Regions from separate parts of the Homo sapiens genome. Here region 2 is linked to region 1. Evidence: fine-mapped expression QTL. Tissue or cell type: whole blood. Region 1 holds a variant in brackets; the other region holds the start of a gene. All regions are shown on one strand. Distances are between the middles of the regions.

What was found. PIP is the estimated chance that this variant, and not a neighbour inherited with it, causes the effect.
Region 2: SHLD1 starts here. The variant in region 1 is fine-mapped to the expression of SHLD1 in whole blood (INTERVAL, PIP above 0.99).

What each region holds. Positions count from the first base shown.
Region 1 is chr20:5,825,224-5,830,223 of GRCh38, reverse strand. All of the region lies in intron 2 of SHLD1 (shieldin complex subunit 1), which reads right to left. Among named protein-coding and RNA genes, the nearest start is that of SHLD1, 77 kb to the right of the region's middle. RefSeq lists an enhancer at 2,870-3,371. The variant T/C (reference allele first, on the strand shown) is at 2,098.
Region 2 is chr20:5,747,341-5,752,598 of GRCh38, reverse strand. It overlaps SHLD1 (shieldin complex subunit 1), which reads right to left and starts at 2,198. Exons shown (of 3, transcript NM_152504.4): 1 at 2,120-2,198. RefSeq lists an enhancer at 2,323-2,372.

The DNA.
Region 1 (5,000 bases):
TGTATAGAGTTTCTAGTTAGGGCCGTTATGAGTGTTGCTGTGACTATTTCAGTGCATGTCTCTCCATGAACATACGGATGCATTTCTCTTAGGTACTTACCTGGGAGTAGAACTGTCTATGTATGCTCACTTTTGAAGAAACTGCAAATAGGTATAACAGCTTATCTGAGAACTGAGGGCCCAGTTCTGCTTTTGCCTGCTTTTAGTCCTAATGATGGGGTTCTATACCAGATCTGTACCAAATCTGATCTTCTATCACCCAAGACTGAAAGACTCCCAAACCATTCTATTGCATCTACCTTAAAAATATTATCTTCACAGATATTGCCTGTGTTTTTTTTTCCTAAAGAAGAGGCTGTTAACCAAGAAGGGTAGAATAAATTATATTGTAGTTCAAGGCAAATTCTATTATAAAGGACAAGCTGCCTAGCAAAACACAACTTATAATTACATTTAACTTCAAAATAAATCAAATTATTCATACAAACCCAACCACTCACTGGTAAATTAATGAAAAACATGACAGTATTGAGCTTTGAATTGCTTCTATGCAAACCCCCAAACTTAAATTTAGGTTATTAAGGCCGAAAAGAGGCAATTAATTTGCAACAAATGCATCCGTAAAAACCTGTTACAACATGGCTGCGGAGTTAATCTTCTCTAAGTTTATAAAGACCATCTGCCCAATTTTTTTGCAGGTTTTCCTTTAGACAATCCTATTTAGACAGTCCCTCCAGACTAATTGCTTTCTTGCTTTTTGAGGGGAGAGGGAGATTAGTATCTTTTTCCAATATCTCCAGTATATAAGCTTCATAAGAGCTCTGTTATCTCAAATGTTGAGTTTAATTTCCTTTCCAGAACATATTGGTCAGAATGTTAAACCTCAAATAAAAAGATTAGTGAGTAATAGTAGGGCTTAAATAAATTAAGGCTTGTAGGCTATGTTGCTACTTTCTGTTTCCAAAAGATAATCTTTTTTCATGTTATTAAACATCATTTGTGACCTTTAAAAAGAACTCCCTGAACTCATTAATTAATAATAAAATCTGGCTGGGCATGATGGCTCACACCTGTAATCCCAGCACTTTGGGAGGCCAAGGCGGGCAGATAGATTGAGCCCAGGAGTTGAGACCAGCCTGGGCAACATAGTGAGACTCTGTCTCTACAAAAATAATTCAAAAAATGAGCCAGGCATGGTGGTGCATGCCTGTAGTCTCGGCTACTCAGGAGGCTGAGGTGGGAGAATCACCTGAGCCTGGGGATGTTGAGGCTGCAGTGAGCCAACATTGCACCACTGTACTCCAGCCTGGGTAACAAAGAGAGATCCTATCTCAAAATAATAATAATGACAATAATAATAGAATCTGGCTAGACTATCACATTAGTGAAATGATATAAAATGACATAAAATCATGCCAATTTTCAATTTTAAGACCTGATAATGCCTATTACACATCTTCAAAATTACTAAATCGATTTGAAATGGTACAAACTACAATCAAATATATTTTACTTGGCACCATCAATTTAAGAAACTGCAAATCAGCACAATAAGGACAGTGAAATGCGAAGCAAAAGAATTGCAGAAAAAGAATAATTCCCCCAATATTACTATATTCCTTATGGTGACAGAAGGAAAAGGAAATTTGTTCTTCTTGGTACAAGACCTACTTCCATGCAAGTGGAAAGGGTGGCTGCTCTAATGATGTGGGAATGGAGTCATCAAGAAATGACTCCTTCCAGCAGCAGGAAATGGTTTGAGGGGCATGGAAAGGAACTTCATAGGCCCTTCCATGGCACCTAGAGTCCCCATTCTGCAGGCCTTTAAGGTTACGATATGTTATAATGTATTATGACCAACATATTTATTCATTCAACAAACAGCTATGAAAGACCTATCACACTGTTCTAAGGTCTAGAGACTCTGTGATGACTAGCACAGATATGGCCCCTGCCCTTACGGAGTTAAAGATCTAGAAGAGGAGGTAGAACCCAGGATAAATAATTATACAGATAAATTCTAATAAGTGACACAAAGGGTGTCCCCAGAGGAGATGACAGTGACTAAATCTAGATGTATGTTGGGGGGAGGCAAGT[T/C]AGGGAGTGACTTGGTTACATACAACATGCAATATAGTTAATCAGTGTTGAATATGCTGACTCTACTCTTTATAACTAACACCACCTTTAACCAAGTAAATGATATTCATCGTATCTTTGCATCAGTCATTTCAATGCAACTAATTTTTTGAGCACTTGTTTTTATTTCAACTACTTGGAGGTACCACAAAGGAATGCAGAGATGACCATGGTGTAGTTTCTACCCACAAGAGTGAATGATCTGGTCTATAGAGGAAGTGGTCCACAAATAACTGGCAAGACCACAGCATGAAGTGCACCCTAGTGAAGTACGCACTGTAATGAAGTACGTGTCGAATCAGCCGTAAGGGAAGCTAACTGGAGGCAAGGGAAATCTGCAGAGAGCAAGGGGATTCAGGCTGGATCCTAAGACTATATAGCATTTCTCCAGGCCTAGGAGGGAAAGGCACTCCTGGGAAAGGGAAGAGGTGTGAAAAGTTGAAAAGAAGTGCAAAGGTCATTGTGTATTTGGTGAGCAGGCTGCAGACTGGCAGAATGGCAGGGGAGGAGGGTATGGGGACAGAGATGGGGGGCCTGTGGGTGAAGGCAGGTGGGCCAGACTGCGGGGGCCCATGACTCCAGGCTGGGTGGGGGCTGCAGACTGGGGGTGCCATAGGGCACTGTGCAGAGCTCTTCCACTTGACCTCTGGTCTATATCTGCTCTCCCCGTCTCCACCCTGCTCTGCCCTTGGGAGGCGGACTACGTGGACTATGGCTGATGGCTGCCCTTGCCCTCCAGCTTCGGGTTGGGAGCCAAGAGGAGGCCTGGCAGGAGGTGGAAGGAGGGAGGAGGCAAGGTTGGACTATTTACATCCTTGGATCCCTTCCTGGGCTGGCGGCATCCCTCCAGCAGGCCCACAGCTCGCATCAAGACAGCCCCTCCACACAGCTGCTGCGAGCACACGCTCTCATGGTGGCGGGCCCCAGGCTCTGTGCTTTCCCTGTGGGTGCCACGCCCACTCATGCCTTTGTACATAAGCTCTTCATTAAGCTCTCCTCACTTTACCTGGTTGGACTGTTTCATCTCTTCTCCACCAGGACTTGAGCTGATACAGTCAAGCAGCAAGGAAATGGGGTGGGAGTGGGGGCTACTGACGGCATTAGGGGCAAATGCAGAGAGGGAGGGTCTGGGAGAAAGAGGGGACTGGGGGATGGTAGGTGGTGATGTGGTGAAGGGGGGGATATGAGGGAGGGGCGATGACAGACTAGCCACAGACCACAGCACTTACGTGAAACCTATGCGTGCCAGGCCCTCTTCCCCAGGCTTTCACAGAATTCATTTAACCCATGCAGATTCTGTATGAGGCATCGTATTTAACAGATGAGGAAACTGAGGCACAGAGAGGCCAAGTGACTTGGTCAACATCCCAAACTAGTAAGTGGTGAAGTTCAGATTCAAACCCAGGAGAGTCCGGTACCAGAGTCATATTCTCAACTACTGCACTGAACTGACTACTCCGATTGAGGTCAAGGAGGAGGACTTCAGAGCTGGAGATGTTGGGGGAGGCAAGGGACTGTGATGGCAACTCACAGGAAAGCCATCTGTGAGGACTGTCAAAGGAAAGCCACTTGGAGAAGATCTTGCTATCCTATACAAACTGCCTCAATGACAATGCATAATCTTTTTCTTTTTTTTTTTTTTGACAGTGCATAATTTTGTACAGGTATCAGAATGGCAGTAATCCTCAATGATTTGGATCCTTGCATTCAAACATATTACAATTAGCTCTGCTATAATAACTATGTTCCTAAGAACTTCACATTATAAAAAAATCATATAAATAGCTATTTCAATATGGGAAAAGGAGGGCTGTGGTTACAGAGTTGATAAAACTAGATAATTTTTTCCTACAGGAGCTTCAACAACAAACAACTTAATTATATTTTGTTACCATCTGCAAACAATAAACAGCTTGATCAGACCAACAAAAGAGAAATAAAAGCAAAACCTGAACAGCACAGAAAAATAACCTGCAGTCGTATTCACACCCACTGATGGTAGAGAACAGTGCTTGATGCCAGCTGGCCTCCCACCACTCATACAGTACCTCCGTGTGGCCCTATACCCATGTGCAGCCCTTCCTTCCTGTGGGCCAAGGGGCTCTCCAGTGGCACTCACATCCCAACCCTGAGTGGTCCAGAAAATTCAAGCCCCACTCCCCATGTCGTCAGTTGCATAATACTCAGTTCTGAGAATGAAAACTTACACTGTCAGGAAAATATTGATCAATATCATTTAAGGTCTCTTGCAGCAGATAAGATCATAAAAACAACCATGCTCTGGAAAATAAGGAGTGGTTTATAAATGTAACAATAGCACAGCACACCCTATTACTTTTTTCTTTTAGAGACAGGGTTCTGCTCTGTCACCCAGGCAGGAGCGCAATGGCACAATCATAGCTCACTACAGCCTTGATCTCCTGGGCTTAAGCCCAGCCTCCCACCTTGGCCTCCCAAAGCACTGGGATTACAGGCATGAGCCACTGTGCCGGCCTTGTTATTTTAAGTGGCATATCACCATCTTAACTCAGGTTGTCTTACAGCCACATGCCAACATGGCTATTAATGTCAGAAACTTCCAGAGCAATCACTTTCCTCTCTTTACGGAAAAAGACAGAAAGGGAAAATGCTCCCTAGTCAGACCTATGTATTTTTCATTTGCACTGCGGGCTGTTAAATGTGCTAGCTTAACCAAGACTGTAACGAGGACTCCATTAACCAGCTCTTAGAAACGTGGTCAGCCAGGAGCCTGCAGCCACCCAGTGGGCATTCAATAACAGCTACCGACTGTATTGACTGGCCTCGACCTGATTCTGTTGTTTCTGAATAGCCTCATGCTGGGTCCCACATATGTAAAGACAGGA
Region 2 (5,258 bases), 78 kb after region 1:
TTGACATATTTTAAAATGGCCCTACAAAGCTACAAAGCTGTCTTTTGTAACAGAAATTTGCATCTGTAGAGAATCTCCATTAATGCAGCCAGGATTTCCTTTTCTAGGCCTTTCCCAGATCCAGGAAAGATTAATTCTGACACCTAAATTTCCAAAAAGAGACATTTACCATCTATTCTCTCTTTTTTGTTTTTTTTTTTTTTGAGATGGAGTCTCACTCTGTCATCCAGGCTAGAGTGCAGTAGTGCGATCTCAGCTCACTGCAACCTTTGTCTCCTGGGTTCAAGCAATTCTTGTGTCTCAGCCTTCCAAGTAGCTGGGATTACAGGCGCACGCCACCGTGCCTGGCTAATTTTTTTATTTTTCGTAGAGATGGTGTTTCATCATGTTGGCCAGGCTGGTCTTGAACTCCTGACCTCAAGTGATCTGCCTGCCACGGCCTCACAAAGCGTTGAGATTACAGGTGTGAGCCATGGAGCCCAGCCCATCTCTAGTCATGGCACCTAGCCCATCTATTCTCTGAGGCTGCTACTCACACTTCATCTACGTAACAAGGACCTTGAACCACACAACTCCCTTATCTTAGTTCAAGCATTCTTTTCTACTGACTTCAAGTCTTTAGACAAAGCTTAACTCTCTCAAGCAACTGTCAGCTAAAGAATCCCTAAAATCCACCTAAGACTTCTAAGACCACCCTTGGACATATCCACCTTTTTGGGTCTAACCAATGTATACCTTCCATGTATTGATTTATGTCTTTGCCTGTTAACTCCTGTCTCCCTAAAATGTAAAAAAAACAAACTATAACCCAACTGCCTCGGGATCACTTACTAAAGACTTTTTGGGTTTGTGTTTTCTCTCTGGGCGATGGTCAATCATACTGGCTCAGAATAAACCGCTTTAAAATAGTTTACAGAGTTTTATTTATTTGCTAACAGTCTGACACATGATACAAAGACAAGCTTTGAAAATATTATACATAGTATAAGAAGATAGCCGGGCGTGGTGGCTCACACCTGTAATCTCAGCACTTTGAGAGGCTGAGGCAGGTTGATCAAGAGCTGAGGAGTTCAAGACCAGCCTGGCCAAGATGGTGAAACCTCGTCTCTACTAAAAATACAAAAATTAGTCGAACGTGGTGGCAGGCGCCTGTAGTCCCAGCTACTCGGGAGGCTCAGGCAGGAGACTAGCTTGAACCTGGGCAGCAGAGGTTGCAGTGAGCCAAGATCGTGCCACTATACTCCAGCCTGGGCTACAGAGTGAGAGTCATGAGACTCCGTTTAAAAAAAGAACAAAAGTCATGAAAGAAGCTAGTCACAAAAACATTGACATTATACTTAATGAAAGAAGCCAGCTGCACTGTATGATTTCATTTATATCAAACGTGCGAATTGGCAAGGCTATACAGACAGAAAGTATACTAGCAATTGTCTAGGACTTGAGGCGGAGTGGACGTGGTGAATGTAGAATGACTGCTACTGGAGGCAGGATTTTTCTTTGGAGTGATGAAAGTATTCTAAAATGAGATCACAGTAATAGATGCACAATTCTGTCAACAACAACAAAAAAACCCTTAATGTTACCCTTTATTATTTATTTTTGGGTACGTTGTCTTGCTCTGTCTTCCAGGCTGGAGTGCAGTGGCGCGATCTGGGCTCACTGCAGCCTGGAACTCCGGGGCACAAGCGATTCTCCCACCTCAGTCTCCTGAGCAGCTGGAACTACAGGCGAATGCCACTATGCTAGGCTTGATTTTTTTTTACGCTTTAAATGGGCAAATTTTACTTAGTAGGTGAATAGAAATTTCCCAAGAAAGCTGTTTTTTTGTTTGTTGGTTTTTTAGCAGAACCTCCTGAAGTGGCAGGTCACTGAAAAAATTTAAAAAAAAACAACAAAACCGAAGCTTATCCATACTCACTATCCACAAATTCCCAAAATTCCCCAAAGCACAGGCTGCAGACACCGTGTGTTGGGGCGGAAGGGGCGGGGAGCTAGCAGGAAATCCTGACATGCCTAGGAAAGCCTCCATAACTTCCTAATTGAGAGAGAACGATCAGATGCATTGCTGTGACCCCCGCCCCCACCACTCCAACCCCCCCCCATCCCATCCCGCGCTTACCTCTCCTCCAAAGCACTCCAGAAAACTGAGGAGAAAAGCCGCCAAGCCCCCCGACACACTCACCATCCGCAACCGGAACGCGGAAGCAATGGCGCCATCTTTTTTATGGGAAATGTGAGGTTCGAAGGAAGTCACCGGAGCCATCCTTACTGCGGGCAGTGAAGGGCAATGGAAGCCGGTCGCGGCCATGTTGACTGAGGCTTTTGGCCTGTCAATGAGGCTTGCCACATGTGGCTATTTTGGGCAATTTCCTGAGGAGGCTTGTCGATAAATGTGCTTGGTAAACCCTAAGGGAACAGAAAAAATATTCAAAAATTTAAATGTTGGCCGGGAGCGGTGGCTTACGCCTGTAGTCCCAGCACTTTGGGAGGCTGAGACGGATCACTTGAGGCCAGGAGTTTGAGACCAGCCTGGGCAACATAGGGAGACACTGTCTCTACAAAAAAAATTTTTTTTTAATTAGCGAGGCATGGTGGCACATGTCTGTAGGCCCAGGTAGTTGGGGGGCTGAGGTGGGAGAATTGCTTGAGCCTGAGAGGTCAAGGCTGCAGTTGGCCATGTTCTTGCCACTGCAGTCCAGCCTGGGCAACAGAGCTAGACCTTGCCTTTTAAAAAAAAAAATTCGTCTGGGCTCAGTGGCTCACGCCTGTAATCCCAGCACTTTGGTAGGCCGAGGCAGGAGGATCACCTGAGGTCGGGAGTTCGAGACCAGCCTTACCAACAGAGAAACCCTGTCTCTACTAAAAATACAAAATTAGCTGGGTGTGGTGGTGCAGCCTGTAATCGCAGCTACCCGGGAGACTAAGGCAGGAGAATCGCTTGAACCCAGAAGGTGGAGGTTGTGGTGAGCCAAGATCGTGCCATTGCACTCCAGCCTGGGCAACGAGAGCGAAACTCCGTCTCAAAAAAAAAAATAAATAAAATTCAATGTCTTGGAGAGGGTGGGGTGGCATGCCCCTGTAATCCCACTGCTTTGGGAGGCCAAGATGGGAGGATTACTTGAGGCAAGGAGTTCAAGACCCACCTGGGCAACACAGTGGAGACCTTGTCTCTACAAAATGGTTTTGTTTTTTTTTTTTTGAGACGGAGTCTCGCTCTGTTGCCCAGGCTGGAGTGCGGTGGCGCCATCTCGGCTCACTGCAAGCTCCGCCTCCCGGGTTCACGCCATTCTCCTGCCTCAGCCTCCCAAGTAGCTGGGACTACAGGCGCCCGCTACCACGCCCGGCTAATTTTTTGTATTTTTAGTAGAGACGGGGTTTCACCGTGTTAGCCAGGATGGTCTCGATCTCCTGGCCTCGTGATCCGCCTGCCTGGGCCTCCCAAAGTGCTGGGATTACAGGCGTGAGCCACCGTGCCCGGCCTACAAAATGGTTTTAATAAATAAATAAATAAACTTGAATGTCTACATTTTAAAAATATGAAAAGTAGAAATTAAAGATGAGGATGAAAATATTGTAATATTCTGATGCATGCAGATAACTACATAACTGCCACAACTGCAGGACCACAAAAAAGAGACTGTCTAAAGACAAAATTACAAAATTAAGATTTAGCTTAAAGATCTAATTGGCTTTTGTTTACAATTCTAGAATCAGGCAGCATCTCATTCTATAAGATTGAATGTTCCAATGAGCTGAGCAGACAAGGTTAGCTTCATAGGCAGAAAAGGGGCTAAAGAATGCAGAAAGAGATTTGAACAAAAAGCAAATTGATCGTCCTTTTTTTTTTCTTTTTTTTTTTGAGACAGTCTTACTCTGTCGTCCAGGCTGGAGTGTCCTGGTGCGATCTCAACTTCCATCTCCTGAGTTAAAGTGATTCTTGTGTGTCAGCCTCCCTAGTACCTGGATCACAGGCGTGCACCACCATGCCCGGCTAATTTTTGTATTTCTAGTAGAGACAGGGTTTTGCCATGTTGGCCAGACTAGTCTTGAACTCCTGATCTCAAGTGATTTTCCCGCCTGGGCCTCCCAAAGTGCTGTGATTACAGCCATGAGCCACCGCACCCGGCCCTGCAAATTGATCATTTCAAAGTTACTTTCCTTGTAGGGTTAAAACAGAGAAGACTTCCTTATTATATTTACTCAGATTGACTGGAATCTCCCGTTTTCTGGAAGATGGGCTTGTTTCAAAGTTCAGTTTGATTACATGGCACTTAGCACAAGTAACTCAGTTCTGATTTGGCCTGGCCTGCTGGGGCCTAGTGGAGGAGGTCAGACCAAATCAATTGCCTCTTATAAAATTTAACAAAACTGAGGGCTCTTTTCCCCTTTCACCATTTTCTTGAAAGAGTAGTGTATACTCATAGCCTCCTATCGATGCCTAAATTGGAATAATAACCCATAAATTAGGAGTCCTGGACTTAAGATAAATATTTTACCTATACACTATTTTCTTTTCCTTTTATTTATTTATTTATTTATTTATTTTTTGGAGATGGAGTCTCACTGTGTCGCCCAGGCTGGAGTGCAGTGGCGCGATCTTGGCTCACTGCAACCTCTGCCTCCCGGGTTCAAGCAATTCTCCTGCCTCAGCCTCCTGAGCAGCTGGGATTACAGGCATGTGCCACCATGCCCAGCTAATTTTTTTATTTTTAGTAGAGATGGGTTTTCACCATGTTGGTCAGGCTGGTCTCGAACTCCAGACCTCAGATGATCCGCCACCTTGGCCTCCCAAAGTGCTGGGATTACAGGTGTGAGCCACCATGCCCGGACTTTCTTTTCCTTAAATACTCCATGCTTGCCTTCTCTCAATTCTGAGCTCTTCCCCCATGCAATTTCTTCCCTTACGAACACTCTTCTCTCTTCTTTGATGTTTATCTTCCTTACAATCTCAGCTTTAACCAATTTTTCCTCCAGGAACCTTCTCTGACTTATCTGAAAAGAGTTAGTGGTCCCTTGCAAGAATAGCTCACTTTCCTCTGTTTACCCAGATTGCTCTAAACTCCTTTGTCCTTTCTGCTTTTCCCACCAAACTGTAAGTATCTCAAAGGCAAAGACCACGTTTATCTTTTTCTCTGCTTGTATTTCAGAGCCCAGCTCAGTGACTCACATATAAGTGAAATCATTGTTATATGCACGAATAAATAAGTCTTTTCCCAGGTCTCACCTGTTCCCCACTCCTCATTCACAACCCACTCAAC